Linked DNA regions of Homo sapiens. The main gene of each other region encodes a partner of the protein of the gene in region 2 in a complex. Links are inferred from orthologs where the notes say so. Each region holds a gene or a part of one and is shown on either strand. Other genes may lie near its edges. The genes, in order: NEDD4 and GRB10.

Region 1 (15,828 bases), on a different chromosome or scaffold from region 2:
TTACACGAGATTTCTAGAAAAGGCAAAAACTGTAGCAATAGAGAGCAGATGAGCGGTTGCTTGCAACTGAGAGTAGGCATAGGGATTGAGGGAACTTTTGGGGGTGACAGAAGTTTCTTAAACTTGATTGTGGTGATGTCTCCATAACTGTATAAATTTACAAAAACTCTTTAATTGTATGATCAAACATGGGTGGATTTTATGGTATGTAAATTATACTCCAAGAAAGCTCTTAAAAAAAACCCCAATCAATGTATTGAGGGAAAAAAAAGGCATGGAAACAACTTTTCTGGTACTAAAATATAAATCATCTCGAGATTCTGCTGCTCATCCGGTCCATCTAAAATTGTGTCTTGGGTGAATGTCTGTCAGTCAATGAGAACTTCCACATATTCATTGTATAGAGGACATTATAACGTGCAGAGGGAAAAACACCATGGAACTCAGCTTGAGCGGGCTCTGATCTAATGGAGGAGGCTGGACAGATGACAGTGAGTGAGAGTAAGGCTAGCGATGATAGTCTTTCAATGGCATCTGTCCTCTTGTTGATGGTCAGTACTGACCAGAGCAATGATGCATAGGTGGGCGACCTCTCATTCCTCAGCACAGGATCTGTGTCCCTTTCTTAGTGCAGGGTGTTATTTAGACAGATAACCCACTCATGGGATGAGGATTTTGGAGACTCTGCATTCCTGTGCTAGAACATACCCTACTTTTCAAAGCTGATATCTAGACTGCCATTCAAAGTTCCAGATGGTTGGGGAAGAAAATGAGAAAGCCATTCCAAGTGGGGAAATGGAATGCACACAGACTCAGAAGCGGGAGAGAATCAGGACATGGGAACAGTCTGCTTGGAAGAAAAAGCATAGACAGGAATGAAGGCAGCAGGAGGCTTCTGTTGGGGGATAAGGAGAAGGGTAGGCTGAAGAGGCTGGGAGCCTGGGAGTTTTACTTTGGTTTCAAAAACAAGTAGGGCTTCTGGAAAACAGAGACAAACTCAGTAGTGAGGCTTGTGTTAGGAAGAGGATGGAGGCAGGGTTAAGGTCCAAGCTGCCATCCAGGCTGTGGCTGGGACAGCACTGAGCAGGAAGCAGAAGGCCTTAGTAGACTGGTGGATGTGATATTGCAGGGAAGAAACAGACCAAGGACTGATAAACTCCAGCCTGGCTGCCGGGCATGTGAATGCCAGTGCACGCCTGAGTGATGAAACCCTGGCTATTCTTCATGTACAGGGCAGACATGGCTGCTGGATGCCATGTGCATGTGCAGAACATCAGCAAATGGACACAGTGATCCTGAATTGTATGCCGTATGCAGCGGATCACCTCTAGCCAGCACAGCACTTCAACTGACAAGCCCAGATACCACCCACAGTCACCAGCATGCAGAGACTTTGCTTTTAACATGGGAGAGACGGTTCTCCATGTTTTGTCTTTAAGCCCCTTCCCTGAACATCACCACCTGGAGCCTACATTCTGTGCTGTATTGGCTCCCTGTAAGGCAAACGTTCACACTCAATCTTCCAAAAAATAAAAAGAGATGCTGAGTTTTATATTTTTATTGATTGATGGGAGAGGGTAAAACTCACCACAGGAAGTGTAGGTTGTTCCTCAAAAGTATAGGCTTGTAAGCTGCCTCTTCTGCTGGAATGATTCTTGTGAAAAAACAAGACAACAGAAGAATACCTTGATATTTGTGATTTGCCTTTGAGTGACAGCTAAGGTAGTGAGGGTAAATATGACAGGGCAGAAGAGAGAAGGCTGGCTAGGATGCAAATGTTGAGAGTGCAGGCTGAGTCATGTGGTCGCTCTCAGCCCCCTACGTGGACACCTTCACACATCCAGCTCCCATGCCCCCCGTGCTGGACTGCCTCCTGGACACCTTCTCTTGAATGTTTCACAGAAACCATTCTCAAATACACTCCCTCTCCACTTTAGTTACTAGTTTTATTGTTGTTTTAACTTCAAGTTTCATCTTTTGTCACTTTGATTACAATGGCAGCAATATCCTAAGAGGTTTCCCCGTTGCAAGTCTTACTTCCTTAAGTCCATTCTCCATGCTGCACGCTGCAGGCTCAGAGCATCCTGCAATGCACAGCCAGTCCTGTCCTTCTGGAGCTGAAGTCAATGACAACACAGAAAACAATGCTTCCTGAACACCACGACCTGCCTCTTCCTGACTTCTTCAGCCACTTCCCACTTCGCAATCTACCCCCTGGACATTCCAGACTACTTGTTTCCTGGAAATCTCATGTTCTTTCTTTCCTTATGTTTTTCTATACATGCTATTATCACTATCTGAAATATCTTAGTTTTGTTATTTAATGACATCAAAATTTACAATGCACATACAAATTGAATCAGAATATCCACTGTAGTACTGTTTATAATAGTACTGTAAACAATCTAAAGTCTTTCAATAGGAGACTGGTGAAATGCCTTAAGGGTTACTTGTACAATGGAATATGCCAGAGTTTAATGACTGTTTTAGTTGGTTTTTAAAGGAGTACATCTATCTGTACTGAAATGGTTCAATGTCTAAGAGACAGCAAGTGAAAAAAGCAAGTTACCAAAAAGTATGTTTAAGATGATCTCAGGTTAAAAAATCATCTACAAATATATGTGTATGCATGCATGTTTATGAATATACAGAAAAAGTTTCTATATATGTATGCATGTGATTTATCACCAGCAAATCAGTATCATTTATTCTTTAGGTCTTTGACCACTAATAGTAACTGAGGGAGCATATATTAGTGGTAAGATAGAAGGTTTAATTTTTATTTATTATTTATTTATTTTTTTGAGACAGAGTCTTGCTCTGATGCCCAGGCTGGAGTATGGTGGTGCGATCTTGTCTCACTGCAACCTCCACCTCCCAGGTTCAAGCAATTCTCTTGCCTCAGCCTACCGAGTAGCTGGGATTACAGACACACGCCACTGCACTCGGCTAATTTTTGTATTAGAGACGGGGTTTCGCCATGTTGGCCAGGCTGGTCTCGAACTCCTAACCTCATGTGATCTGCCTGCCTTGACCTCTCAAAGTGCTGGGATTACAGGTGTGAGCCAAGATGCCCAGTCTTAAATTTTATTTTATATACCTAAATACAATCTCAATTTGTAACCATAACCATACAGTGCTTTAAAAATATTTTTTAAAATAGGTAACACTCATACATGTTATAAAATTCAAAAGGAGCCTGGGAAACAATACTATACCAAGTCTTTACAAAAATTTTTTAAAAAAATTAGCAGGGGTACAATGGCATGTGCCTGTAGTACCAGCTACTCCAGAGGCTGAGGTGGGAGAATCCCTTGAGCCCAGAAATTTGAGGTTGCAGTGGGCTATGATCATGCTACTGCACTCCAGCCTGGGCGACAGAGTGAGACCCTATCTCAAAAAAACAAAAGGTACAAACAATATATATCCTGCTCATTCTTTGCCTCTCTTCAGAGGCAAGCAAAGTTATTAGTTTCCTGTTTAGTCCTCGAGTAAATTATACACATATTTATGCTCTGCATTTAAATAATTTACATAAATTCTGGTGTAACAAACACACTGTTCTGTACCTTGCTGTTTTTCATTTACCAGCATCTCTTAGGGATTGTTCCATCCAACATATACACTCGAGCCCACCTTGTTCTCTTCAATGGCTGCATAGTATTACACTATATGGTTGCCATGTATTACTTTAAGTAAAAAAAATACCAGGAAGAAGGGGAATGGGATCGTATGTGATTTATCATCAGCAAATCAATATGGTTTATTCTTTTTTTTTTCTTGAGACGGAGTTTCACTCTGTCACCCAAGCTGAAGTGCAATGGTGCAATCTCGGCTCACTGCAACCTCTGCCTCTTGGGTTCAAGCCATTCTTCCAATCTCAGCCTCCCAAGTAGCTGGGATTACAGGTGTGCACCACCACACCGAGCTAATTTTTGTATTTTTAGTAGTGACAAGGTTTCGCCATGTTGCCCAGGCTGGTCTTGAACTCCTGACTTCAACCCATCTATAATCCCAGCCTCCCAAAGTGCTGGGATTACAGGCGTGAGCCACCACGCCTGGCCTAATGTAGTTTAGGTCTTTGACTGACCTGTCCCACTCCCCTGTGAAAAAATGAAATGAATGGAAGACAGAACAGACAAATGGAAGAAAGGAAGGGCAGGAGGCAGGCAGGCGGATTTACTGGCAGATATTCATATTCACGTACAACTATCTACTGTGAAGCTTCTTGAAGAAGATGCTAGAGCAGAGGTTAGCACACATTTCCTGTTAAGATCCAGACAGTAAATACTGGCTGTGGGCCATATGGTTGCTGCTGTAACTACTTTATTCAGATGATGTCGTGTGAAAGCAGAGATGGGCAATACCAAAACAAATGATGTGGCTGTATTCCAATGGTAATTATTCATAACAGGCAGCTGCTGATTTGGCCCACCGGTTGTAGTTTGCTTTCCTCTGCACTAGAATGTAAGTCCCATGAAGGCAGGAGATATTGTTAATTTTATTGACTGATGTATCCTCAGTAACTAGCATATAGTACTCTGCATATATGTGATCAGCTCTCATTAAATATTTACTAACTAAATGAAAGGCAGGGAAACCTCAACTGGAAATGACAAATAGCATCCTCAGAGAATAATCTTTGTCTTCTACTCAATCTCCCTTGATGATACATATTAGACAGCTAGCTATGAAGTTCTCATCGTGGAAGCATATGCTGGGATACTTTATTCTGAACCCTATGGACAACAGTTTTTACAGTGGTGGCTGAAGTGAAAATGTCATCTATCTCCTTGTTTAGTCAAAGTATATCAGTTCTTATTCATATATACCTGTTGGTGACATCTGTGATATAATGTTAAAACTTCAGGCCAGAAGCAGTGGCTCATGCCTGTAATCCCAGCACTTTGGGAGTCTGAGGCAGGTGGATCACTTGAGGCCAGGAGTTCAAGACTAGCCTGGCCAACAGGGTGAAACTCCTCCATCTCTACTAAAAATACAAAAATTAGCTGGGCGTGGTGGTGTGCGCCTGTAATCTCAGCTATTCAGGAGGCTGAGGCATGAGAATCGCCTGAAGCTGGAGACGGAGTTTGCAGTAAGCCGAGATAGCACCACTGCACTCCAGTCTAGGTGACAGAGTGAGATGTCTCAAAACAAACAAACAAACAAGCAAACAAAAAACCAACTTCAGCATAACTGGGAGAGAGAAAAGCAGTCCCTAACATCCAAGAGCTGGCCTGGCACTCATAGGTAAGATCAAGACAAAATCAAGACCACTCTGTAATCGTGGCTGAATATAGACAAAACATGAACATTGTCCAAGCCACAAAATACCAAACATTTCCCCATCCTGGCAAATGTGAGTGACTGTTCTACTTTGCTAATCATAGCTTTAGCCTCACTACAGATAAGATTTGAGATACAAAATCATAGAATTATCCCTGCTTCCCAACAGCATCTCATGTAGAGCAAAGTCCTGCTTCCTAAAACCCTCTTCAAAATCACCTAACAGGAGCCCAAATCCCTGAAGTCTTTTCTAACATTCTGCTACCAAAACACCAATGGTGCGTGTTCTCCCTTGCTGAAATGAATAATAAACCCAACTTGTTCAATGACAAATGTGTCCCTAGTGATTTTTGACTGGAGGGCACTGACATAATGGAAATTTGGATGCCATGACTCTGGTCCATACTACTAATGAGGATATTTGAAAAATGACCATGTTGTAAAGTCCCAAGGTCCCTAATGTATTATTACATATTATTGCATTTAAGACAAAATTTTACATAAAAGTTAGTTGTTGAATAGTATAATATGCATAATATAAACTACTGAAGCCGTAACAAAATCTAAGAGCATCTTACTGAGCTCGATGCTGGCTGGCTCACGGCTGAATTTCCAAAAATGGTGAGTCTGGCATTCAATTCTTCTGCAAGATGAGTTGGAACATCCAAGTTACTTGACGGTGGAGGTGATGGGAAGGCCTGGTTGCTATACATGGTGGCTTCATCTTCTCTTATAATTTCCCAGTTCTAAAATGAACAGAATAAGCTTGAGCCACACATACTTTATTGCTATAGCATGTGTCTTTCAAGGAGAACTAGGAAACTACTTATACCTCGGAAGACTCTCGGTTGTCAACACTTTCTGTTTCCTCGGATATCTGCCGCCTGGTGGTAAATGCACGTTGTGCTTGCAGTTGAATGTTGCCATTCTCAGCATCTGTTAGGTTGTCCCTATATTGGAAGTATAAAAAGCCATCATCCATGTCTTAAGTAGTTAAAATGATTGTCAAAGATTCTGTGATCATTGGGAAAAAAATCTACATTACATCAATAAAAAAATTTATTGTCTTTGACCAAAGGCTATTTCAACATGCAAAGATTCAATCATGGGTAGGCAGACTGGTATATTTAGAGTACCTTACGGAGTTTAAGGTTTTGTGAAAAGGTATAACATGTCTGATTTGATATTTTAGTTTGTCACTATGTCTAGGATAATGTCCAACACATATAGGTACTCAAAAATATTTGTTGAATGAATAAATATCAGAGCGCTTCATAGATTATTTCATTGTATTATTTTGCCATGTTATTATAAGAGTAATAGAGTTACACATACATACATCTTTGTGAATCAGATAGTACATTTTCTAGAATTGGTCTTAAGCCAGGAGTAGAGTACTCCATGCATGAATGTGAAGGGCAGAATGAAAGATGGTGTAAGAACTTTATAATGAAAAGCTTAATGGTTTAGGAATTACATATCTATTAGTAATGGTATCTGTTTTTCGTAATATACAGTCATGGGCCTGTCCTGAAAAAGGTAATAGTAAAGATTTGTCTGAGCTTAGGAGAGGTACAATAAATCAGATTGGACGGTTAATGAGTATTAAAAAAAACAGAAAGAATGAATAAGACCTAGTATTTAATAGCTTAACAGGTGACTACAGTCAATAATAATTTAATTGTACATTTAAAAACAACCAGAAGACTATAATTGGATTGTTTGTAACAAAAAGGATAAAGGCTTGTGAGGATGGATACCCCATTTTACATGATGTGATTATTATGCCTTGCATGCCTGTATCAAAACCTCTCATGTACCCCACAAACATATATACCTACTAGGGACCCACAGAAATTAAAATTAAAAAAAATCAGATTGAACACCCTTACCCCAGTCATTTATATTATTCTAATTATTTGCATTTAATATAACCAGTCTATCAGATCAAGAATTTTGTTCAAATATTTAATAATAAAATTACTGTTTATTTAATGCGACATGAGCTCAGGCTAGTCAGAAGACCAGTTCTTACTGTACCGTAGCTAAAGAAAACATAATTTTGATACATGGCTCTAAGGGAATGCTTCAGTTTTTTTCCCCCTAAATATATGATTTTGGCTACCTGAAAATGACATCAGCCACAGTGAAAGAACTGTGATTTTGCTCATGTAAGGCTTGCCATAATACTGAGGTATGCAACAGCGCAATTCTACAGAATTTTATAGTGTCTTCAGCTTTGCAGTCTGTACGTCACTCTATGAAGACTGAAGCTTCTGTGCCATGAAGTACTTGAATTGCTGATTTGTTTTGGAAGGATTTGAGAACAGAAAATATCTGTAAAAGTGCTTGGCATATATCAGGCACAAAATATCATAGCCAAAAATTAGGAGGCTAATGAACACATTAAAAAATTACGAGTATGTTTCAAACAGAAGACTAAAGGAAGACTTTATAAGACTATATGGAAGGAAAAATGGAAGGGGATTTGAGAATAAATATGAATAATGGGAGATTTTATAAATGTATATACAGTCTAATAATAAAAAAAATCACTGAGGAGACAGAAGTTAGAATATGTTGAAAGTCATTCCGTCCTTGATCTGTGCGTGCTGGAAGTTATGTGGACATTGACCAGACTGTCAAATGCGCGTTTAACGTAATACCCTTATTATTGAGTCCTTTATATTTTACAAATAATTTATATTTTAAAAATAGAGTACTATAGAAATTAACATTTTATTACATTTTAATAACAAACTACAAGAATTCTCCAAGACTTCTAATTCAGCCTAAAAATAAAAATCTACCATTTGTGGCTACATAAAATTAAAAACCTATTAAAATTAAGACGCAATTAAAAGGGTAGTATCTAGAGTCAAGTAATTTTGAATATTATCAAGTCATTTAAAAAACGAAACAGCAGAGTTAGGATTTTTAAAGTCCTGGGCAATAAAAATCCTAGTATTCTTATAGTTTATGGATCACTATACTGTTATGAATCCATCTGAGACATGACTTCAAAATGAAAATTCGTAGTTAAAGTGTTTCCAGATTAAAATTGTGAAAGCCATCAGCACATACTGAGGGGTTGGTCTTTTCCACTGTGTTCTTCTAGATTCATGGTTTACATAATAGGTCCTTCCAAGGATATCCTGCCTCTCTTCCCACCCTGGAGGTAGAGGAGAAGGTTCTTGTTGTTGCTGCAAATGGCAAGCAGCATCTGGTTGGTCCAAAACAACCCAGCCAGGCTGAAAAACAGGATGGCAGCAATTAAGTTTACGCATGATTTTTTTAACTTTCTAAATTATATGCTAAAGGAAATTTAAAAAGAGATTTATTATATCAAGTTTTAGAAATTATGCATAGACAGAATAAACAATCCTCAACTTTTAAGACCATAATGTAAATACTTTATGATAATGAAGACTCTTTTTGCAAAAATGATAACCATTTAAATTTTGTTTAAAATTGTCTAAAAATTTTTCAAAAAAAACTTTAAAGGCACAAGCCTGTAAAGTTTCCACCAGGTTCTTCCTGGGTGACAGAACCAGATCCCATCTCAAAACAACAATAAAACAGAACTTTAAAACAAATCTATTTAAAATTTTCATAACAAAAAAGTAATAAAAGTATGTGAGGTGATTTAATGAGATTAATTAGCCTGATTTAATCATTTTGCATTGTAAGTATATATCAAAACATCACATTGTCCTCCATAAATATATACAATTATTGTCAATCAAAAATAAAATTTTAAAAAATCTAATAGAAAAAAAGGACAAAAAATCGTTTAAATAAACAACCACGGAAAGTTGGAAAGTACTGAGAAATTGAGAAGTATAGTTTAAACTACTAGTGTAATCTTAGGCTGTTCTCTAAATTATCAACTGAATGAAGGGCAAGGATTATTTCTTATTGGTCATTGTCTTTCCTACAGAGAAAGCACCTTGCTTACGGTAGAAATCAATAACTATCTGACACATGGAAAAAATCATTTGATAAAGGTCAAATATACAAAGGGGCAAGATGGGGAAGGCAAATGATTTAGAAATAACTGCTACAGTGAACTCTCTAGTGATGGAAAAGTCATTCTCATTCCCTTGTCTGATTTCTCTCTTTCTCCTCTGGACCAAGGCAAGGCATTTTATCAAGTCATAAAACAGCCAAAGAAAGATTTTTAAAAAATGCACTGAGAAGTTTGGTTTCTCAGAGATTAACAAGGGGCAAAATTAACATAAAGCCTTAGGGCAGTTAAAGTAAGGAATTGATAGAAAAGAGTAGCAAGAGTTAATGCTTTTATATGAGAAACCTCACAAAAGAAAAGGCAGTAGGTCAAAGATTCTATTAAATACTGATTGGTTAGGAAAGCATTAGAAACTGAAATAAACTGGTGAAGAAAACTTTAAAATGCTCCCAAAAGGACACAAAAGAAGACCTAAATAAGGGAAAGACATAGTCTGTTCTTGGCTGGGAAGACTCAGTCTCACAAAGGTGTCAATTCTTCCCAAGTTAATCTATAAATTTGCCAAGATTCCAACAAAACTGTATTATGATTAAAAAAAAAAATAGGCCAGGTGCGGTGGCTCAGGCCTATAATTCCAGCACTTTGGGAGGCCGAGGCGGGCAGATCACTTGAAGTAGGGAGTTTGAGACCAGCCTGACCAACATGGAGAAACCCCATCTCTACTAAAAATACAAAATTAGCCAGGTGTGGTGGCGCATGCCTGTAAATCCCAGTTATTCGGGAGGCTGAGGCAGGAGAATCACTTGAACCCGAGAGGCGGAGGTGATGGTGAGCCGAAATCACGCCATTGCACTCCAGCCTGGACAACAAGAGTGAAACTCTGTCTCATAAGAAAAAAAAAAAAAAAAGATACGAGGCAACTCTCAAGTTCAACAGAAACATAAACAAGCAGGAATAAGCAGCACAATTTTTAAAAAGAAAAGCAAGAAGTGAAGATCAACCCTACCAGATAAAAACACATTATAAATGACAACAATTAAAGCTGTGTGGTTCTGGTGCATGCATCGACAGGCAGCTCAATAGATTTGCCCAGAAAGAAACTCAACTTTATAGGAATTCCGGCCAGGCACAGTGGTTCATGCCTGCAATCTCAGCACTTTGGGAAGCTGAGGTGAGGGGGTCACTTGAGGTCAGGAGTTTGAGACCAGCCTGGCCAACATGGTGAAACCCCATCTCTACTAAAAATACAAAAATTAGCCGGGCATGGTGGCGGGCGCCTGTAATCCCAGCTACTCGAGAGGCTGGGGCAGGAGAATTGCTTGAGCCCAGGAGGCAGAGGTTGCAGTGAGCTGAGATCGCACCACTGCATACCAGCCTGGGCGATAGAGCAAGACTCTGTCTCAAAAAAAAAAAAAAAAAAAAACTTTATAGGAATTTAGAATATGATAAAGACATTTGAAATCTGTGGCAAAATACGCAGATTACTTAGAAAATGGGCACCCATTTGGAAAAAACTTCACTTGAATTCCTACCTCATGCCTTATATCAGGATAAGTTACAGACTGAATAATATCTAAATGTTTAAAAGTGAAACCAAAAAGTAGTAGTAACAAACTTTTGAAAATTTTAGAAATATATTTTAAAAGTGGGACACTGTTAAGTATGACACCAAACCTTGAAGGCATGAAAGAGAAGATCCATAAATTTGATAACAAAACACCCACATTTGTATATGGCCAAAACTACTAAATAACATTAAAAAAAAAAAGACCAAATGACAAAGTGGCAAACATTTTTGGTGCTTTGATAACTGACACAGAATAATTTCCTTAGATACACAGAGCTTCTGTTCTAGGCCTGGAGATCAGCAGTAAATGACTGCTGTGTGACAGGCAGTGGACGGCTTCCAAGATGGAAGAGAATTCTTCCACGTTGGAAGGCTAGACCTGAAAACGAGGCCTCAGGGAAAAGAGTTGGGAAGGAAAGGAATGTTTTTTGGTAGCAGGGAGAAATGGATAGGGGTTTCTGCAGCAAGGCTGATCTAGTTTGGCTAGCTCTGTATAGAAGGTGACGAGTAGTGGAGTAGGAAGATGACAGAATAAATTATTTTGGGAGAAAAGGTCTGGAGGGGAATTTCTCTCTTTCTTCTCTCTCTCAACAGGGTCTCATTCTGACACCCAGGTTGGAGTGCAGTGGTGCCATCACAGCTCACTGCAGCCTTGACCTCTTGAGCTCAAGCAATCTTCCACCTCAGGCTTTAGGTGTGTACTACCATCCCAAGCTAATTTTTAATTTTTTTGTAGAGATGGGGTCTCGTTATGTTGCCCAGGCTGGTCTCAAACTCCTGGGCTCAAGCAATCCTCCTGCCTTGGTCTCCCAAAGTGCTGGGATTACCAGCGTGAGCCACTGTGCCCAACCTTTCTTCTTTTTTTTTTTAAATTTTTACCTCTTTTATAAGAATTGTTCTCTCTATTTTTTCTTTTTATTGCCCAAATTTCATTCTCTTCTTTCCTTATATCCTCTTACTTTGTCTGCCCATCCATGTTGATCTTCCTTCTTTCTTTCTTTTCCTTTCTCTTAAATTATGATAATACAGGATCTAGCATACCTAAAATTTAGTCTTGCATATATTGAATCAGACTGTATGTTTCTGGTTTCAATCCCAAAACACGTTAAGTTTTTATATTTTACTCTTTTGAGAAAATATAAATTTAACATTTTTTGGTTGAATATAACCATTGATTACTTTTCCTTTAAGATTAATACAATTTATTAATAAAATAGTTCTCACTACTGCTGTAAAGGATTATAAAAATAGTGCTAGAAAAATGGTAGCAAAAGAATATTTCTTTTAAAGCTTCTTAGAGATTTCTCTCTTAAATGTCTGCTTAATGTATTTATATTATCTGAGTAAATTCAGGAAGAGAAAGAACAAAAATTAATTTAATTAAGGGCTTAAAAAAGACCTGTCTCAAATTTGTGGAAGTAGAGTTGTACAATCAAACACGGCTTAGAAAGACTGGATACAATGCCTCTATACAGTCAATTTTTTGGATAGAAGGCCTTCCTATTAAATATGTATCAGCTGCTATTCTTTATAAAATAACTTTCTAAGTATCAATGAACCTTATTTAATTTCTAACCGCAAAGCCAATATGTAATTGCTCACAATTTAATCAAGTCAAAGAGGGTCAGAAAGAAAGCATTCAGAGGTACAACCAACATTTTATGTTAATTTTGTAAAATACATACAACTAACCCTAAAGTTGCAAATGGTACAAAAATCAAATGTTACATAATTATCTATTATAGCCATACTTTACTACAGAATACAAACTACCTAAGAGTGAGCTTCATTTCAAAATTACAATTGTTTTCCTTAAATAGTAGAATTTTATATATACAGTCACAAACTAGCTGTCAAAGGACTAGGCAAGACTCCTCTAGTCATTAGCTACACAGAAGGTAAATAAGCACAGATTCATGTGTTTGAATTCCTAGGGCCTTTCATAAATAAACTCCTACAAGCTTACATCTCCTGAAATTATAAGGTGCATTCTGAGGGAATTCAAACACTGAGACATGAGACCGCAAAATGAAGTGAAGCAGTTCTCTCCACAGAAACTCAACTGTGAATAGGGTCCTATGATGCGTGCATGTGGGCAAAACTTGGAGCAGGTTACTAAATAATGAAATGCTGTTAAATTTTTTCAAGTTACTAAATAAATAATTTTCTTTCTTTACAGCAGATATCCTTCATTTCAAACAGAATTCCATTATTCGAGATACTCTGGTACACCAAAAAGCCAGGTAGAGAAACTTCTACTGAATGAATACTTGAAAACTTTAAAAACAATTATACGAAAATCAGAGAAAAATACCTAACAAAAAGTTAATCAAATAAGTGAAGAGAGTTCTTTGATCACCAAACCAGGGGCTATCTATACTCTGTGATTTGAAGAAAAAAGGTTCTTTCCTGGCTGGGTGCCGTGGCTCACGCCTGTAGTCCCAGCACTTTGGGAAGCCGAGGCGGATGGACGGCTTGAGGCCAGGAGTTCAAGACCAGCCTGGCCAACATAGTAAAACTCTGTCTCTACTAAAAATACAAAAATTAGCCAGGCATGGTAGCACATGCCTGTAATCTCAGCTACTTGGGAGGCTGAGGCATGAGAATTACTTGAACCCAGGAGGCAGAGGCTGCAGCGAGCTGAGATTGCACCACTGCACTCCAGCATGGGCCACAGAGCAAGACTCTGACTCCAAAAAAAAAAAAAAAAGGTCTTTCCTTCTATTATTATAGATTCTCCTGCAAAGCAAAATCTCATTAGTGCATTTAAAATTTTCCCAGAAAGCTCTGCTGCAAATTCACTACCTGTTCTAGAGCTTTTCTTTCTCAAGGTACATGGGCATGTGAGGTAGAGCCTAGCCCCTGGGGAAGGCCCTCAGCTTCACTGTTCTTATGGAGACCTAAGCAGGCCCTCAGTCAGAGGAGAAAGTGTTAAGCAAGGCAACAAATAAGAACCCTCCAGAGCAATTTGGTGCCATACGCTGTGTGCTTTGCTTTCAGTAACTGCTGTTAATATGGTTTGGCTGTGTCCCCACTCAAATCTCATCTTGAATTGTAGCTTCTATAATCCCCTCGTGTCGTGGTAGGCACTCAGTGAGAGGTAACTGAATCATGAGAGTGAGTTTTTCCGGTGCTGTTCTCATGATAGTGAATAAGTCTCATGAGATCTGATAGTTTTATAAAGGGCAGTTCCCTGGCACACACTCTCTTGCCTGCCACCATATAAGCTGTGCCTTTGCTCCTCTTTCACCTTCCACCATGATTGTGAGACCTCCCCAGCCATGTGGAACTGAGTCCATTAAACCTGTTTTTAAAGCTTTATAAATTACCCAGTCTCTGATATTTCTTCACAGCAGTATGAAAATGGACTAACACAGCTACTGAATAAATGATACTTCTTTTTGATGATAATGTGCTTTCAAAGGGAACCTCAACGAGCAGGTGTTTTTTTGACCCCTTTCCAAATCATAAATTTTTTTGCTGGAAGAAACCCTCGAGGTCATCTGATGCCATCCTGTCACTCTGCAAACAAGATCCTGAGGTTCGGAAAAGTTCAATGACTCACACAGGTCTGGCTAGACAGAGTGTGCAACTAGGATTCCAGTCTCCAAACCCTATCCAATTCTATTCCAAATACATACTTTCTGCCTCCTACTTGCTTACTCCAGATGCATGTAACTCTACACAAATCTTGACTTGGACTTTCCTCTCATCCTGTCATCCATGAAAATTGTTAAATTCTACTTGCCCCACATACAGAAGGCTCTTTATTAGATCACTTAAATTTTCCTTGCTCCCTAATTCCCCTCCTTTCCTATGAGCCCTCCCACCATAATAAGAATATTAACAGGACTTAAATTTCATAAAAGAGTTCCTAATCAGTGGAGTCTCCTCAAAATGTCCATATATTTAACTTCAAAATACTAAATTGTGTTCTTACTTTAATGGAGAATATACAGTTTTAGAAAACTTTGAAAAACTAGATTTATATTCTATTCTCTACTCCTTAACCTTTAAGAAGGCCATCAATAATGGCCATTCCTTCTACGGAAATATCCTTAGAGGGAAAACTATTAATGCTTGGGTGAAATAAACATCCAAGTAAATAATCTTCATTGCACATGTTAACTTCATTCAATAGTTATTGTTCTTCAGAGTACAGTAAAATAAGAAATTAAAATTTTTTTAGTTTAACCAAATATTTATAAAATCTCACCTCTAATTCCTCAGCCTGTTCTGCATTATCATCTTCTGAGCCACTGGTTTTAGGTAAATAAGTCATTTTTAGTCTCAGATAACCTTTAACTCTTGATTTGTGACTGTAGAAAAGAAAATAAATATTCATAAAACTTTAACACCGGGAGAAAAGTATTCAATTAATAAGAGTTTAATGAACACCCACTAGGTACCAGGGGGTCTACAAAGGGAGGTTCAAAGACAAGTTCCAGGGCAGAAGATATCTAGGGAAAGGAATAGAAGGTAGAGAAAAGGCAAACATATATAAATAAATAAATAAATAAATAAATAAATAATTGTTATGACACAAAGAAGATGCTAAGGAAGTTTAAGTGAACGATCAGAGACAATGTCAAAGAGAAGCTGGCCTTTGAGTTGGGGTTAGAAGACTGGGGAGGATTCTTACCTGTGGCAGTAGAGGAAAAGGCATATGAGTAAAGAAGAGGGCAAGATCCAGGAAACAGATGGGAAATTTGGGGTGCAATTAAGGAAATTGCAGTAGTTGAGTTTGGCTAGATTATAGGACATGTAAAGGGGACTACAGGAGATTGGGATGGTCCAGAGGTCATGCAAAATCAGACAACTTCAGACTTTATTTTGCATATTTTGGTAAATCACTGAGAATTTGGGGGATAGAGAAAGGTATCCTCAGAGATGTGCTTTAGGGATGCTAATCTGGCCATATTTTTTTGGATGACAGAAGAGTAGAGGGCAAGGCCTGATCAGTGTCTGAAACCTGCTACATCTCTTTGGCAGCTGTTTGAATCTGTCA
Region 2 (15,828 bases):
TACATGAGGTTGGTTTTGCTGAGAACAAATAGCCCCAAACCTTAGTGGCTTAAAACAACAAAAATAAATTACGTATCATTGTTGGTTGAGTGGCCTTTCTCACCTGGGCCAGCTTGGCTGGGGCTGGACAGTCCAGGATAGGTTCACTCGTGTTTGGTTGTTGCTGTGAGCTGTTGCCGTGGCAATTAGTGACTGGGCATGTGTCTGCAGCAGATTACTTGAGGCTCCCAGGCATAGCAAGAGAGGTTAAACCCCACTACACATGCACGAGACTTCTCAAGATTCTCGTACCATCACATTTGCCACCATCCCGTTGACCAAAGCAAATCCCAAGACCACACTTGAATGACCCTGGGAAGGAGCCAGCCACAGTGTGGATATAGGGACAGGGACATGGGATGCAGTTACCACAGAAGGCCGACACTGCGGAGCCAGCAGTCTTCCAGAAAGAGACACAGGCTGATCATCCTCCCTGAGGAAGTAGTTACATCCATGTGGGAGCTGTCCCATACGGGGTCTGAATACTCAAAATACAGGTTCCTGGAAGCTGCTAAACTCAAAGAATGATTCTTGTGTCCTTCGTTTTACAAAAAGTTTTATTACGGAAATTTTCACATTTACATAAGTGTATAATGAAACCCCACTTACCCATCACGCAGCTTCAACCTGCTTACTTCACCTCTTCCCTTTCCTACATTCTCCTCCTCCTCCTCTTCATCTCTCTTTTCCCTTTTCTCCTCCTCTTCCTCCTCTTCTATTTTAAAGGAAATTTCAGATATCCTAAATTTTTGCCAGCAAATACATCTCAATGCCTGTCTCTAAAAAAATAAGGACCCTTTTGTTTTGATATAACTGCAATGTTATTACACTTAACTAAATAAATAAGAATTTCTTACTATCATCTAAAAGCTAATCCATGTTCAGATTTCCCCAGTTGTCACCAAAAAAACTCCTTTAAATTAAGTTGAGGTTATTTAAGGTAGGACCCACAAATGGCATTTAGATGCTATACCATATACTTCTGTCTCCTTGGATATAAAATAGTCTTTCTCATCACTCTGTTTTTCTTCTATTTTTTTAAACATCTTTTGTTTGTTAAAGAAGTGGGTCATTTGCTAATAGCATGTTTGTGGTTTATTTTAATAAGTTCCTCTGTCTCCCTGATTCCTGGGGAGTGGTGGTCATGGTGTGATCAGATGCATTTCTTCTGCCTGGTGTCTGCAGGGCAGGTACTGGGTGCTCTGCTGCCTGGAGTGGAGGAGGCCTGAAGCCTGGTTGCTGTTTAGTGGTGTCGGGTGAGCAGGGGTTCAAGTGCAGCCAGCTGGAACCTCCCCACCAAGGCTACCGTCCCCGTCCACCACATGGTTTTAGCAGCCCTTGGTGAACTTGCCCAGGTTCAGTATTTCATTAGGTGTTCCAAAATCATCATTTTCTAATTCCTTCCTATATGAGCTGAAGTTCTTTCTTGCATTAGATATTTCCTGGAAAAAGTAGGTAAATGCCTGGTTTTCCCCTTTACTTGTCAATTTTTAGAACGAGTTTGTGTTCTCCCACCTTCCACTAGAGGCAAACAAGGGGTGTTTTTGTTGTTAGTTTGGATTTTGTTTAAACTGTCACTGTGAACTTAGATTTTTGTGTTTGATTTATTTCAGTCAAAACCTCTTCTCGACGCTCACTTTGCCCCTCATTGGCCAATGGTTCCTTCAAGTTGCTTCCTGAGTTCTTTTGAGCTAGCATTAATGGTATTTGATTTTGGGGTGACAAGATGTATTAGACTCAAATGATGCATTTCTCACAGGGACCCTGATTCATTCTAATGCAAAATGGTATTTGGAGACTACAATCTTTAGATCTTTTTAGTAAACAGAGCTAGGACATGGGCTTTTTTAAAACAAAAAATAAATGTTGGGTTCACGTTGATATTGCTAATTCAAATTTGAGATTACAGGATTTTTTACTTCTTTGATTTTGTTGTTTTTTTTTTCCTCTGATGATCTCTGTTAATGGCATTAACTTAATTACTTATTACTTTATATTACATAATACAAAATACATACCTGTAATATCTTGAAAATATTAATGCTGATATTTATTCAGTAAGACACCTGAATTGCGATTTCTTTACAGTCCTTTTAATCCTTAAGGATTAATCCAGGCAGGTTACCTTAAAATACCTTGCCCAAAGTCACTTAAAGTAATTCTTCTCTATGGTTCTGTCACCAAACTGCTGGGTAAATCAGGTTTGTTTGTTTCAGTTTCTCTTTAGTGTTTGCAAGTGGATCTGATTTATTTTCTTTTTGGTTGAATGCTGCTTTGTAAATTGCATAAAACATTTTCATGGTTCCAAAGTCAGATCTATGAAATAAGGCACATGCCCTGTCCTCTCAACTCTGCCTCCCAACCCCTACACCAGATAAACAGCTTTTATTAGTGTTTGTTTATCCTTCTGTCATTTCATTGTACAAATACGAGTGAAAAGATTTTGTTTTCTGCCTCTCGTTAAGCAAATGTAGCGTGCTGCAAGTACTGCGCTGCGCAGTTCCCGCAGTCTCTGCATCCCAAGGATCGCTCCACAGCAGCGCATCGCGATGGCCCACATTTCTTTTCCACTCTTGGGTTTTCTTTTATGTACATGGAACATCATTTTTTAAAATGTCCCCTACTGAGGGATGTTCACCATGTTTCCAGGCAAATGTTATGAGACACAGTGCTGCATTGTTTCATAATTTTGCCATGTATCTTTGCCATGAGTCCTGAGAAGTGGGGCTGTGGGGTGGAAGGGCAGGGCCTATGTAATATTGTGAAGTATCACCAGAGTCCCTCAGCAGGCTTACTTCTTCATCTGAGAGTCATGCTGTCAGCCGCATCTCTCATGAAGGAGGCTGACCCTCGTTTCATGTATGGAAGGACTTCTTTGTCTTTTGGCAGTTCTACCCTGTTTACATTTTTTGTCCATTTTTCTAATCAGTTAAGTTGCAGACACTTTTGTTTTTCCCACTCCTAAATCATAAAGGGGTGCATTCATGTTGTCTTGTACTTGGATTCTTTTCCCCCCTCTCTCCTTCCTTCCCTCTGCTCCTCTTTCCTTCCTTCCTGCTCTCTGCATTCTCCCTTTCTTTCTTTTGTCCTTAGTTGGTTCATTTTTGGTCTTTGTTTGGTTTTGTTTCGATCCCAGATGCACTTGGGTTTATTTATCCTCACTGCTGGGTAGAGTATGGGTCTGATTTTATTTTGTTTCCCATGTGGCTTTACAATTGCTCCAAAACTCCTTACTCAAGATGTCAGCTTTATCACAGAGCAGTCTCTCAAAGCATTAGAAGCAACTCCTCCTCTAACTGTAAAACAGTATGTTTCTCCTCTAAAGTTTCTGGCATGCCTGAGGAGAGAAAAGCCTAACACAGAAATTTCTCTTTCTGTGACGTTTTTGAGTTAGGGGTATCTGTGTGTTCTGGGGCTTCTAATACAGTGTATACCTGCTTATACCCCTGAACCGTATCAACAGTGGGCCCAGAATGTTCTAGGGGGACCTCTGTTACCCTTGCCGTGTGTGGGAGGCAGCGCAGGCTCACTTCGGGGTAGCGTCACTCTGCTGGAGAATTGGCACTTCCACAGGAGGCTTTATTTGGTGCTGTGGCCACTAAGTGTCCTCCCCAAGGCCAGGGCAGTGAGGACGCCCATCATCCCGAGGCGAAGATGTTTCTGAACCTTGGGGGCGGGTGTGGCAGTCATATGTTTGAAGAAGCTTCCTGAGTGATTCTGGGATAAGGCCCACTCTGTCCACTTTGGATTGAAAGGGCTGCCTTGGGGTGGGGTGGATTGCAGGTCAGCACTGCTGGGCCACCTGAATTGTGTGTCAGCGTTTTGCTTCCCCCAGCCATGTTTGTCTTTCAATTTTTCTCGGATCAGAAACCCAGTTGGTGAGGCATCCGTCTTTCCAGACCTGTAAAGCGATAGAAGCATCACCTCTGTTACCTTCCGTTCCCCAAATCAGCCCGGCTGGTGCCGCCCGTCTTATTCTTCAGCAGGTGTTCCTCTCCGTCCTCCCTGGAGCCTTCCTCGTCTCCAAGGCTGTCATTTCCAGCTCCCGCCTTAGGCTGCTGGAGCGCTAACCACACACAGAAATGCAGATAATGGGATTGATTCAGGCGTTAACACAGGAACAGCTCATCTTCCTCTCAATTCTTGGGTGTAGGGAGGAGGTGTATTTGTATAACAAGGTAAATAATCCATTTCTAATCTTTACTGATCCCTGCAGAGATGATGAAGGCAAGCCAGTTTAAAGAGTTAAACAACAAAGAAAAGAAAACCACCTCGAAAAACAGCACAAGATTCTGGACAGACAGTATAACAACAGCATTTTCCATAGCTTTATTCTCAAACGGTGTATGCAGTTAGAAAGAGACATCAGAGCCTTAAATAAGCCCGTCAAGTATTCCTGAAATCCCAGGATCCAGGCAGCTCCCCTCCCATCCCCGTCCCCACCCATGCAGCTGAGCGTGTGCGCGCACATACTCGTGCTTTACCAGCCCTGCACTGAATTTGCCGCCTGCTTCCTTCCTGTCTTGCCACCCATGCCCGTCCCAGAACTGCAGGAGAAGGATCTTTTTAAGGGGAAATCTAGGTCTGTAGTCCTCTCTGCCAAACAATCCCACCCCACCCCCAACACCATGCTTATCCCCCCAGGGCATGTGGATGCCCCCCCTGCCATGCCCACACTCATGGTCCAGCCCCACTGGCCTTCCTGCTGTGCCAGGCATCGATCCCTGTGTCATCTGCCTGTGCAGTCCCTCTGTCTGCACTTCATGCCCCTCCACATGTTGGAAGGAAACCTCTTCGGCAAAATTTGAATTCTTTGAAGCTTTCCCTTCTCCCAACCGCAGAAAGAGAGGTGTTATCCCCAGGACTCACATAGCACCCTTGTAAGAGGGATACTTTCACTTTTCGTCTGCTTTTCCTGCTGAACCAGGAACTCCTCCATGACTGGCTGTGTGACCTTGGGGAAGTTGCTTAGCTTCTCTGTGTGTCACTTCCCTTATCATTGTGAAATGAAGATAACAGTATCACCATGAAGATGAATGAGTTAATACATGCATGAAACACTTTGCACGGTGTCTTGCTTGTAAACGTGGTCTAGATTGTACTCTGATCACTGTCGGGTCCTGTCACAAGGGGCTCTTCGTTCATTTATGATGGACTGGTGAGTGCACCATCCCTAGCATCGATTCTTAAGAACTTACCTGGTTCTTGCCACTGTCCATCCTGGGCCGTGTTTACAACTTCTGAGCCTGGTTAGTAGTCACTTAACATGCTTAGCTTCTCCCTGGGCATCTTTCCTATAACTGCAATCCCCTTAGAAATCACTGGATTGTGGCAGTTGGCTGATTGCAGTGATTGTTATTTCAAGCTACCTTGTATTGCGTGTGATCATGCACAAAGCTGTATATACATCAGCCATGGTCTTCTCAATGGTCCTGTAAGAGAAGAGTTATTCTGGCTGGGTGCAGTAGCTCATGCCTGTAATCCCAGCACTTTGGGAGGCCGAGGTGGGCGGGTCACCTGAGGTCAGGAATTTGAGACCAGCCTGGCTAATACCATGAAACCCCATCTCTACTAAAAATGTAAGAATTAGCTGGGTGTGGTGGCGGGCACCTGTAGTCCCAGCTACTTGGGAGGCTTAGAGGGGAGAATCGCTTGAACCTAGGAGGCGGAGGTTGCAGTGATCTGAGATTGCACCATTGCACTCCAGCCTGGGTGACAAGAGCAAAACTCCATCTCAAAAAAAAAGAGGTGTTGTTCCCCTTCTGCAGATGAAGAAATTGAGGCTGAGAAGAGAAGTTGCCCAAGATGATGAAGCTAATAAGTGACCTATCCAGGATTCCTGCTGATGCCTAAGCCATGCCATTCTCCCCGCATAGCAGTCATCTCAGATAGACAACCTTCAGGCATTCCCTATAAAGCTCAAGCCTTCCAGCAGCCTTGGGACTTCCCAGGGTGAGCCTGCCCCTCTCAGGGGTACACGTCCCTCTCGGGTAAACAGGCCTGGGCCATGCTGCCATTCACTCGTCTGTAGCTTCCCATCTGCAGAAGGAGACAGCAGATAGTTAACGGCAGAGAAAGGGACGCCCCACATTTTCCTCTAGTTAGAGCTGAAGCTCGGCAAACTTCTGGGTGTCAGAGTAACGATGTTTTATTTGGAATGACATGACTCTGACAAGTCTTTGAGGTGGGCACAGCTGCCCAGCATGCACCAGCGCTTGGGAGAAGAACTGGATCTCCTTGTCTTCTCTCTGGCGGTGCCGCGTGTTCCCCAGTGGGGTCTGAGCTTCCTCACGCCGTCCCATCTGGCCTGACCAAGCCAAACCATGGAATCCCATTCTGATCGGTGTTTCCCAAAGTATATCCTGAAGCACACAAGGCCTGCAAAGTGCTATTTTAGAAAGGGTGGGGGAGGTTTCTACATAGGTAAGATTGGAAAACTGCTAGGCAGTTACCATGAATATTCACATATTTAAGGCTCTGAGAAGTCCTGTAGTAAAATATATTTCTTTTACCTTTTCAGCATGGGATTTTCCAGTCTTATTTAACTGCTTTCCATCTTCACATTACAATCTAGACCTGGTGATTTTGCTGATGATTGTAGTTTGGTTTTGGATACATTTAAAGTGAGTTCCTTTTCAGGCCATTTCTTCTTTGTAGCTTTCATTGGATCTTTCTTCGCTTTCTGATGTATAACTATCTTTTCAGCTAACTCCAGATTTTCTCATGTAAGAGCAATGATTTTATGCCTTTTTTGTGCTATTCTAATTTAGGATTAAAAAAAAATTTTAAGGTTGTAGAAAGGTTGTAATAGTAATAGGATGAACTATACACACTTCGCCCAGATACCCTTATTAAGATTATGGCACATTTGCCTTTGTTCTTAGTTACTGTTTTTTCTTCTGAACCGTTTAGGAGTAAGTTGTGGCATGATGTCCCTTTAGTCTGAATTATTACAGTGTAAAATTTCTAAGAACAAGAACTTCTATAACCACAGTACCTTATAAAAACCAGGAAGTTAACATTGACGACGCAGTTCATTGTCTAATCTATACCCTTCTTCCTAATTGCCTCCTTTATAGCAAAAGAACATCTTCATCCTAAATCTTCTCTCCCAGCATGTATTCATAATCTTGACCTGCGTTTCGAGTAGAAGCCAATTCTTGTAGAGTGTGCCTGGGCTCAGCCTAGGCTCCTCACTCATGGTGAGATTCAGGCTATGCATTTTTGGCGGGAGCACCCCCGAAAAGTGATGTTGTGTCATCTTCAGTACATCGTCTCCGGAAGCCCTCAAGGTCAATTTGTCTCATTGCTAGTGGTGGTAATTTAGACACTTGATGAAGAAGATGCTGTCGGCCGGATTTCTCCACTGTAAAGCTATTATTTTCCCCTTTGTAGTAAATAAGTATTAACAGTACAATACTTTGATGCCATGAAAATACTCTTTTTTCTCATCCACCTTTCATCTGCTGGTTTCAGCATTTGTTGAAGATCCCCCCTCCTTCGTTAATTGTTAGTTACTACAGTAATTGCCAAAGGGTAGTTTTTGAATACATCTTGCCTTTATTTATTGGCTGACATTCTCCTCCAAGAAAGATTTTCATCTTCTCCCGTATTAATTTATTTGCTTATTTATTTTTAAATAATACTACAGACACGGATTCCGATTTCATGGGTTATGATTCATTACTTTTAAAATTCATTTTGATGCCCAGATTTAGTCATCCTGCCTCCTGTGTCTTTTTGACATGTCCTCATTATTCTTTGAGCACTTCTTGATATGCAGGCACAAAATAATCCTTTTCATCCTATAGTTTCCCTGCCCTAACCCTGTAGTCAGGCATATCCCCAAGGAGCCCAGCTTTTTTCCAATGGAGAATGACAATTCAGAATTACCGTCTTGGTGCTTGCCTGGTGTGCTGTTGCCCCTAGAGGCCACTTAAATGCCAAAGCACTGCACTGAAGCATTGTGGCTCCAAGCCTGTGTGTGTGTGTGTGTGTGTGTGTGTGTGTGTGTAAGAGAGTGTGTGTGTGTGATTAGTTCCAGATTTTAAAATATTTTAGCAATCAACTATTTTCCCTTCCCCAGGCTTTTTCTCCTCCGTGACAGCCAGAGTAATCCAAAGGCATTTGTACTCACACTGTGTCATCACCAGAAAATTAAAAATTTCCAGATCTTACCTGTAAGTATTGATGTTCTCAGACCAGTCCTTGTGGTTTGTTTTCTGGTTTCATTCTTAATGCAATTTTCAAGTTATAAACCGACAAGACCGGTAAGTATCAGACAGTTTCAAGGCTGCAGTTAAGAAACTTTCAAGAATTTCTTTACAGGTTTGTCTTTTGAAATTAGAAAAACATTTCCCTGGAAATAATCCTGAAAGTGGTGATAGGGTGTTGAGGCCCCCCTTGAGCCTGTGAGCTCTTGGTTGCAGCAGAAAGGGTACTGATGGGGAGGATCAAGGTCGCAGGAAGGGGAGGTGGAGGAGAATTAGCTGAGGGCCCACAGCTGAAAGGGTACTGATGGGAAGGATCAAGGTCACAGGAAGGGGAGGTGGAGGAGAATTAGCTGAGGTCGCAGCAGCTGTGAGCACGTGGGTCTGGAAGGCAGGAGTTGTGCAGCAGGATTGCCTGTTGGCTGCTGGAGTCTGAGGAGTCTTGTAATTTGTCCTGGTGTACACCAGGGCTATCCAAGAAGCGTTAAGTGGCCTCCCAAAGAGTAATTTTGTTTCTCCTTCCACATGGTCCTTGGATCTAAAGACCATTCTCCCTTTGAACAATTCCAAAAACTTCATTACAGAATACATTAATCAACACTACTTTTTTTGACAAAGCACTTTATGTTTGATTCGCCTGATGTTTACCTCTCACTTCAGTATGCCACAGTTCAATTCTAGTTCATGATTAGAGTGCTAGATCAGCGCCTACAAGAATTCAGTTTAGTTGAGAATACAATACACAAAATTAATAGCAGCTGTTTACATGCTGAATTGATAAATTCTGCAGGTAATGATAATGTTTGTGAAATGCATCCTGTGGAACCCAAACTCTACCAAAAGAGGCTGGCTGGACAGTTTCCTCTCAGAGATTCAATCTGCATGTCAGCAAAGAAAAAGCTCTGAGAAGGCTTAAATTAACTAAACTCACCTGTTTTACACAGTTGAACCTGGAGTTCTTCAGGCTTATCTGACCCCCAGGACTTTGTTATGATCTCAAGAATCGTGTAGTGACTGGCAGCCATGGACCATACAGGATGAGGAGGGTGTCTTGCTTAGCTTTTGTGAGCCAGGGGAAGGCAGTGTGCCACGCACTGTCTTTTCTGTGGCTGCTTGCTTCCTGCTGTGTGCTGACATCCCCACCTTACTCGTGAGGAAAATGAGGCTCATGGCTGTCAGTGGCTTTTCCTGCACCGCACTGGGGTGAGGAACAGAATCTGGGGTTGAGCCCAGCCTTCCCAGCTTCCAGCCAACCTTATATGCAAATACAGGAATTACTGTCCTAGGGAAAGTGCTGCATAGACAATCCTTTTTGTTCTTCTACTGCATTATATTATTCACACAGTTATAATTCTTTTAGCTCAAAATATAAAATGAAAAGTGATTGACATTTTAGGCTGGATGAGTAAATTAAAAAAAAAAAAGAAAGAAAGGGGGCTTTCGTGGTAGGCAGAGTGTGTAATGCCCAAATCCTACAAGTAACAAAAGAACAGCAACTTGGGACTTAGGGCATTAGGTGTGCAGCCTCTGTGTGTGAAAACTGGCTGTGGGATGTGCTGTTAGCTCTAGCAATGGTTTTAGAGTTACGAAGTGGTTCCAAGCTCATTAATTAGCCAAGCCTTAAGGCTGACCTATTCCCTGTGAACAACACGACCTCCTTTCAGCAGTGTTTTGCACTGTACTACAGTCATCCAACTGAAAACTCACTGAGTTAAAATAGGTGTTAGGAATATGATTCTCTCTGGGAGATACTGTGGCATTCCCCTGCTTTAATAAAAATAACTGCCCCATATTCAGGGACCTAGGAACGGAATTTACCTGCGTGAGCTTATTAATCCCTCATAGCCACCCAACAGTTGCTTCATCATGGAGCAGAGTAAACCCCTGGGGCCTCAGGAGTTGGCTGAGGTCGTATAGTGAGGACCCAGGTTTGTGCAGTCTTCTCGGGGCATGCTGTGTGCAGTGGGTACTTACAAGTTAACTGGTAAATGTAATTCTCATGAGCTGGGTGAACTGGGGGCAACTTCGAGCCCTTCCCCTTGACCACCTTAGGGAGCAGGGGAGCTAGCTGTCCTCAGCAGCCTCCGCAGCCCACCCAAAGTCTGTCCCTCGCTCAGGGACATGGCAGCCCCCAGCACACATCCTCTGCTCCCGTCTTTCCCGCCCCTGGTGTTTTCTAGCCTACCTTGCCCTGTGTGTCCCTCTGGAATCAAATCATGGGCAGATGTAGCTGCTGCTGGCCGTGGGCCCCGTTCTGTTCCCTGAGGTGGCAGCCTCTAACCTGGCAAGTGTTCTTGTGTCTCTCCAGTGCGAGGACGACGGGCAGACGTTCTTCAGCCTAGATGACGGGAACACCAAATTCTCTGACCTGATCCAGCTGGTTGACTTTTACCAGCTGAACAAAGGAGTCCTGCCTTGCAAACTCAAGCACCACTGCATCCGAGTGGCCTTATGACCGCAGATGTCCTCTCGGCTGAAGACTGGAGGAAGTGAACACTGGAGTGAAGAAGCGGTCTGTGCGTTGGTGAAGAACACACATCGATTCTGCACCTGGGGACCCAGAGCGAGATGGGTTTGTTCGGTGCCAGCCGACCAAGATTGACTAGTTTGTTGGACTTAAACGACGATTTGCTGCTGTGAACCCAGCAGGGTCGCCTCCCTCTGCATCGGCCAAATTGGGGAGGGCATGGAAGATCCAGCGGAAAGTTGAAAATAAACTGGAATGATCATCTTGGCTTGGGCCGCTTAGGAACAAGAACCGGAGAGAAGTGATTGGAAATGAACTCTTGCCCTGGAATAATCTTGACAATTAAAACTGATATGTTTACTTTTTTTGTATTGATCACTTTTTTGCACTCCTTCTTTGTTTTCAATATTGTATTCAGCCTATTGTAGGAGGGGGATGTGGCGTTTCAACTCATATAATACAGAAAGAGTTTTGAATGGGCAGATTTCAAACTGAATATGGGTCCCCAAATGTTCCCAGAGGGTCCTCCACACCCTCTGCCGACTACCACGGTGTGGATTCAGCTCCCAAATGACAAACCCAGCCCTTCCCAGTATACTTGAAAAGCTTTCTTGTTAAAATAAAAGGTGTCACTGTGGTAGGCATTTGGCATATTTTGTGGACTCAGTCAAGCAACCACAGTCTGTTAATCATTTCTCTATGCTCAGATGTCAGATCCTCTTGTTATTAGTGTGTCTTGTTCTGCACAGTGCAGGAGACTTTATTCCTTTGGAAAATTCACTGTTCCACAAACAGCAGGCTGAATGGCCTCGCCTCTAGATTGACGTGGGCCAGCCTCCTTGAGACACACCTGGCACCCGTCATCGGCCAGCGGTGGATGCTGCATAATCCACCTGGGTACTTCAGCCTTGCGTTTCCACAGCCTTCAGCCTGTTCTAGAACGATCACTGCCTTACCCCTGCTGCTGCAGTGGTGTGAGTCGTTTCACGGCTGATGTCCCTCGGGGGATTAAAGGATCTAAAGAGAAAATGGCACCTGGTTGTCTTCGTGCTGTGTCTCATGGGTTTCCATAGTGATAAAGACAAGGAAACGCTGCAGGGGCCACAGGCACAGGCTGATATTTAAAGATCTTTGCTTGCAGCCCTCCGTCCTGCTGAAAACCCCCATAAGCCAGTGAACACAGAGCAGCTAGAGGCTCCTCCTCTGCTGGCTTAGGGTCAGAAGTACCTCACAGTGGTTGTGGACATGGAAGAGTTTTGTCAACACAACACTTTGTCCCCGCTCCGGGAGATGAGTCAGATGGTGGCTTGAGTTGTCACTTGGTCCCCTCCGCCCCTCGGGTGGCCCCCTTTGCCACGTCCCCTTAGCTTAGTGATCAGGTGTGAGAGTGGCCATTTCCTTACCTTTGATCCCTGTAAAGCAGAAAGGACTCCTTTGACAGGCGACAAACTACTGTGGTGAGCAGAATGATTTCCTTTTTCAAGACAACACCTGCCTGGCTTCTATTAATGTGTGCTGGCCATGATATTGCCCCAAATCCGCCCCACTGAAGTGTTCCCTAAGGAACAGCATTTCTCTGCTCCTCAGTCAACCCCCGTAGCCTAGAGCAGTGTCACAAGCTTCAGTAAGGCCAGTCAGCTGGAAGTCAGTCTACCGTATAGTAACACTGTATGTCAGTCTACAGACCACACTCTAGTTGTTTTCCATGAAAGGTATACAAATGAAGAATTTTCTAGCAAAACATGTTTTTAACCATCAGTGCTCAATTGCATTTTCTTCCTTTCGCAGCCAGTCAGTCTTTCAAACTATTGACAGTAAGATAATTCTCACGTTCACACCTGGTGGCAGGCTTCACTGTAGGGACGGACATTGCAGTTACACCACGATTCCTTCCTCTTCACTGGCTCGAGGTAAACCCTTTTCAAGGAAAAACAACTCTAGGATTTCTTTTTTCTGTGTACGTAGACCAGTCCCATCAGTGTATAATCTCTCTCTCACACGCCTCTCTCCAATAGACAGCTTGTATTTGCAGTATTTCATATTTATAAATATGCGTTTATTTAAAAGGAGAACAAAAGCTTGACTCTGATTCACAGTTTTGTATGTAGCTGGTTTGACGTAGTCTTTTGTATTTTCCCTGCCGAAGTGAATTGTTGGAGAATGTAAACCGCCTCCACGTGGCGGCAGACTTCCTAAGGCCCCAGCTCGCTGGCCTCGCGCTGGGCGGCTGGGAATTCCACCTGAGAACAAGTCCCGCAAACCGGGGACGGAAGGACATTTGACTTTTATTTTTGTATTTAATTGACATGAATGTAAAGGGGACAGCTCAGGGTTGTTTTGGAGCCTGTTGACTTTGTATCTCTGCCTGTGATTTTCTTTTCTAAATGAAACTCCATGTAGCAACCAGGACGAAGTTGAGAAGGAAAACGCCAAATGCTTTGGTTATTAGAGTTTAATAGGTAAGCTCTGTTACACTAGGTGTTAGAGTTCCAGAATGTTCTTTTGTTTGCTAAACCTTGAAGAAACATGTGCCTCAGCCTAGATGTTTTGTCTTCTCTTTTCTGCACTTAATACCTGACAGTATGACCGATCTCTGCGCCTTTCTGGGGGCGGGCAAGCTGGCGGTAGATTTGTGATGTCACAGTGCAAACTGCAGTGACTGTAAATTGGCCTGGCGTGTATAAACGTTTTCAGGGAATGCAGAAGGTATTAATGAAGAGACAAAACCTTTATTCCATGTGCTTTGCTTCATTCTGTACATAGCTCTTTGGCTCGTGAACCTAATTGTAAACTTTCAGGTATTTTTGTACAAATAAGGGACTGATGTTCTGTTTCTTGTAATTAGAAATAAACATTAATACAGTGTTCTTCATTTTCTATTGCTGGTGATATCTGTTTCTAATTTTAAAACACTGGCCAATCATGAGGTCAGGAGTTCGAAGCCAGCCTGACCAATGTGGTGAAACCCCGTCTCTACTAAATATAAAAGTTAGCCAGGCATGGTGGTGCGCACCTGTAATCCCAGCTACTCAGGAGGCTGAGGCAGGAGAATCACTTGAACTTGGGAGGTGGAGGTTGCAGTGAGCCGCGATTGTGCCATTGCACTCCAGCCTGGGTGACAAAGCAAGACTCCTATCAAAACAAAACAAAAAAAAAACCCTGGCCTGTCATCCACTAAAAACATTTTGAAATGACTTAGAATACTAAAAACACACTTCTTACCACTAGCTAGACACTATCACAAGGAATCCATAGCTGTTTGGGACATGTCACACACAAGCTTGCACAGCCCTCGTGAGACACCAGGCTCTTGGCTGCTTAGTGCTCCAAGTTGGTGGCAAGACATTCTCAGCTGGCCTCTCCTCCCCCATAAAAATAACAGACCTCAGAAGGTTTCAGAAACCGTCAGATACCCACACAGGCTTCAGAAAGACCTCAAGAAACTCACATTCACCCTTGAGCCCAACTGGCATTTTTTCCACTGCAGTAAGACAATTAAAATGTCTAGAACCTAGGTTTTCTAAGCCAGCAAACAACTGACAGAGTAAGAATAGATGCCCATTATTGTTGTTTCTCCAGCCCTCGCCTGGGATGATCCTGGCTGAGCTACTGACCTGACACTTGGGCCAGACTTGCCATCTCATGCCTCTTCCCTGTCACACCCTGGTCAGCTGGAGGGCATGTGCATGTTGTCACAAGCTAGCCTGGTCTACCAGCAGGAGGGCCCCTGTGCTGTGTGGACTCTCCCGTCATTTGTTTTCAGAATCTGAATTCTCAGTTTCTGGAAGCCCACCCTCTGCTTCAACATACAAGGAGAGCCCAGGGCAGGTGGGGACCCACCGGGCCAACTGCAGTTGTTGATCGTAACACCAAAGAAGCTTGTAGGTGCAGCCACGCAGGGCCAGCCAATGGCCTCCCAAGAGCACCCCTGTGGCACAACGCGAGAATGCATCTCACTGCCTCCAGCACGTTCTTCATCGGTTTTCACAGCATTTGAGTGATGAGTAAAATTATAAAAAGGGATTTTGTTTAATGATAAAAGCCTTAGCTTCTTAAGTGTAAAAAGGTAAAATATTCAACATCTTCCGATTATAGAATGGTAAAGGCAGCGTTACCCCTTTTCATTTTGGAAGTTATACAACATTAAGAAGGGCAGGAAACAAAAATGAAAAATCCGCCTTTGACAAAATTGGGCTTCATCTGCCATCCCCAGTCATCATCCACAAGATGGGCAGCTTGGGAGGCCTGCAAAGATCAAGCAAGGGCCACGTGACAGGATGTCCATGGCTGCTGGCCTCAGCACAGCTAGCAAAGGGCACTTCAGAATGAGTGGTGTCCCTCGGGGAACTTGGGGTCCTCTGGGAACAAGGAGAAAGACACTGGGGTTGGTGGCAATTGGTGTCATTTTTTTGTTTTTTAAGACATGGTAGGCACTTTTGATCTGTAACTACATCAAAGTCTCATTTGATTTCTGGGAATGTTTTGTGAATTGCATCTAAATACATTTTTCTTTTTGTTTTTTCTTTTTAATTTGTTTTTTATTGAGGTAAAATATACATACATAATTTACCATGTTTACATTTTAAGTGTACAGTCCTTATAAATGTTTCCACTTCCCTGCCCCATCCCATTTCCCAGCCTCTGGTAGCCACCAATCTACTCTCTATCTTCATGAGATCCACTTTTTTAGCTCCCACAGAGGAGTGAGAACATGCAAAGCTTGTCTTTCTGTGCTTGGCATATTTCACTTCAAATGGTGTCTCCATTTCCGTCCATGTTGCTACATCTTTGCAAAAAGATGGAAATTGTGTGTTTGCTCCCTTTTGTCAACCTCTCCTAGCATTTGCGGAGAGGCCCTGCAGCTCTCTTGGTGTTTGAATCTGAGTTGCTGTCTTAGTCCTGTCCTCCTCCATATCCGTGATGGTGTTTCAGTAGGGTCTGTTCTCTATGCTGTTTCCTTGCACACTTCCCTGCTAGGCTGGCTTCACTTTTCTCTGACGTTTCTCTTCAGAGCTCTGCCAGCTTTCTTTATCTAGTGCCTGAGCTTTTACAGCTCCGCTTTGACCTTCGGTGATGTGATTGCTTTCTTGTTTCTTGTTTTGTTCTTTTAAG

Evidence for each region.
Region 1: the proteins of GRB10 (region 2) and NEDD4 are in contact, whole or in part, in a crystal structure (PDB 3M7F), measured with the Mus musculus proteins. The link is inferred for Homo sapiens from one-to-one orthologs. Residues at the interface, in NP_001357532.1 of Mus musculus: Ile514, Arg516, Gln518, His519, Phe521, His522, Gly523, Arg524, Asp548, Gln579, Phe581, Gly587, Asn588, Thr589, Lys590, Phe591, Ser592, Ile595, Gln596, Asp599, Phe600, Leu603, Asn604, Ile617, Arg618, Val619, Ala620; in NP_035020.2 of Mus musculus: Glu71, Leu72, Val79, Arg104, Ser112, Ile114, Leu115, Thr116, Ser117, Val118, Gln119, Glu134, Ile135, Leu136, Phe137, Arg138, Leu242, Pro243, His244, Pro245, Pro246.

What each region holds. Positions count from the first base shown.
Region 1 is NC_000015.10:55,854,543-55,870,370, forward strand, and holds part of NEDD4 (E3 ubiquitin-protein ligase NEDD4), read right to left. Parts: intron 15,140-15,828; coding exon 15,037-15,139; intron 8,538-15,036; coding exon 8,371-8,537; intron 6,237-8,370; coding exon 6,119-6,236; intron 6,033-6,118; coding exon 5,865-6,032; intron 1,655-5,864; coding exon 1,589-1,654; intron 1-1,588. UniProt on the Homo sapiens protein: E3 ubiquitin-protein ligase which accepts ubiquitin from an E2 ubiquitin-conjugating enzyme in the form of a thioester and then directly transfers the ubiquitin to targeted substrates. Specifically ubiquitinates 'Lys-63' in target proteins.
Region 2 is NC_000007.14:50,587,828-50,603,655, reverse strand, and holds the end of GRB10 (growth factor receptor-bound protein 10), read left to right. Parts: intron 1-8,125; coding exon 8,126-8,219; intron 8,220-10,557; coding exon 10,558-10,704; 3' UTR 10,705-13,588; downstream 13,589-15,828.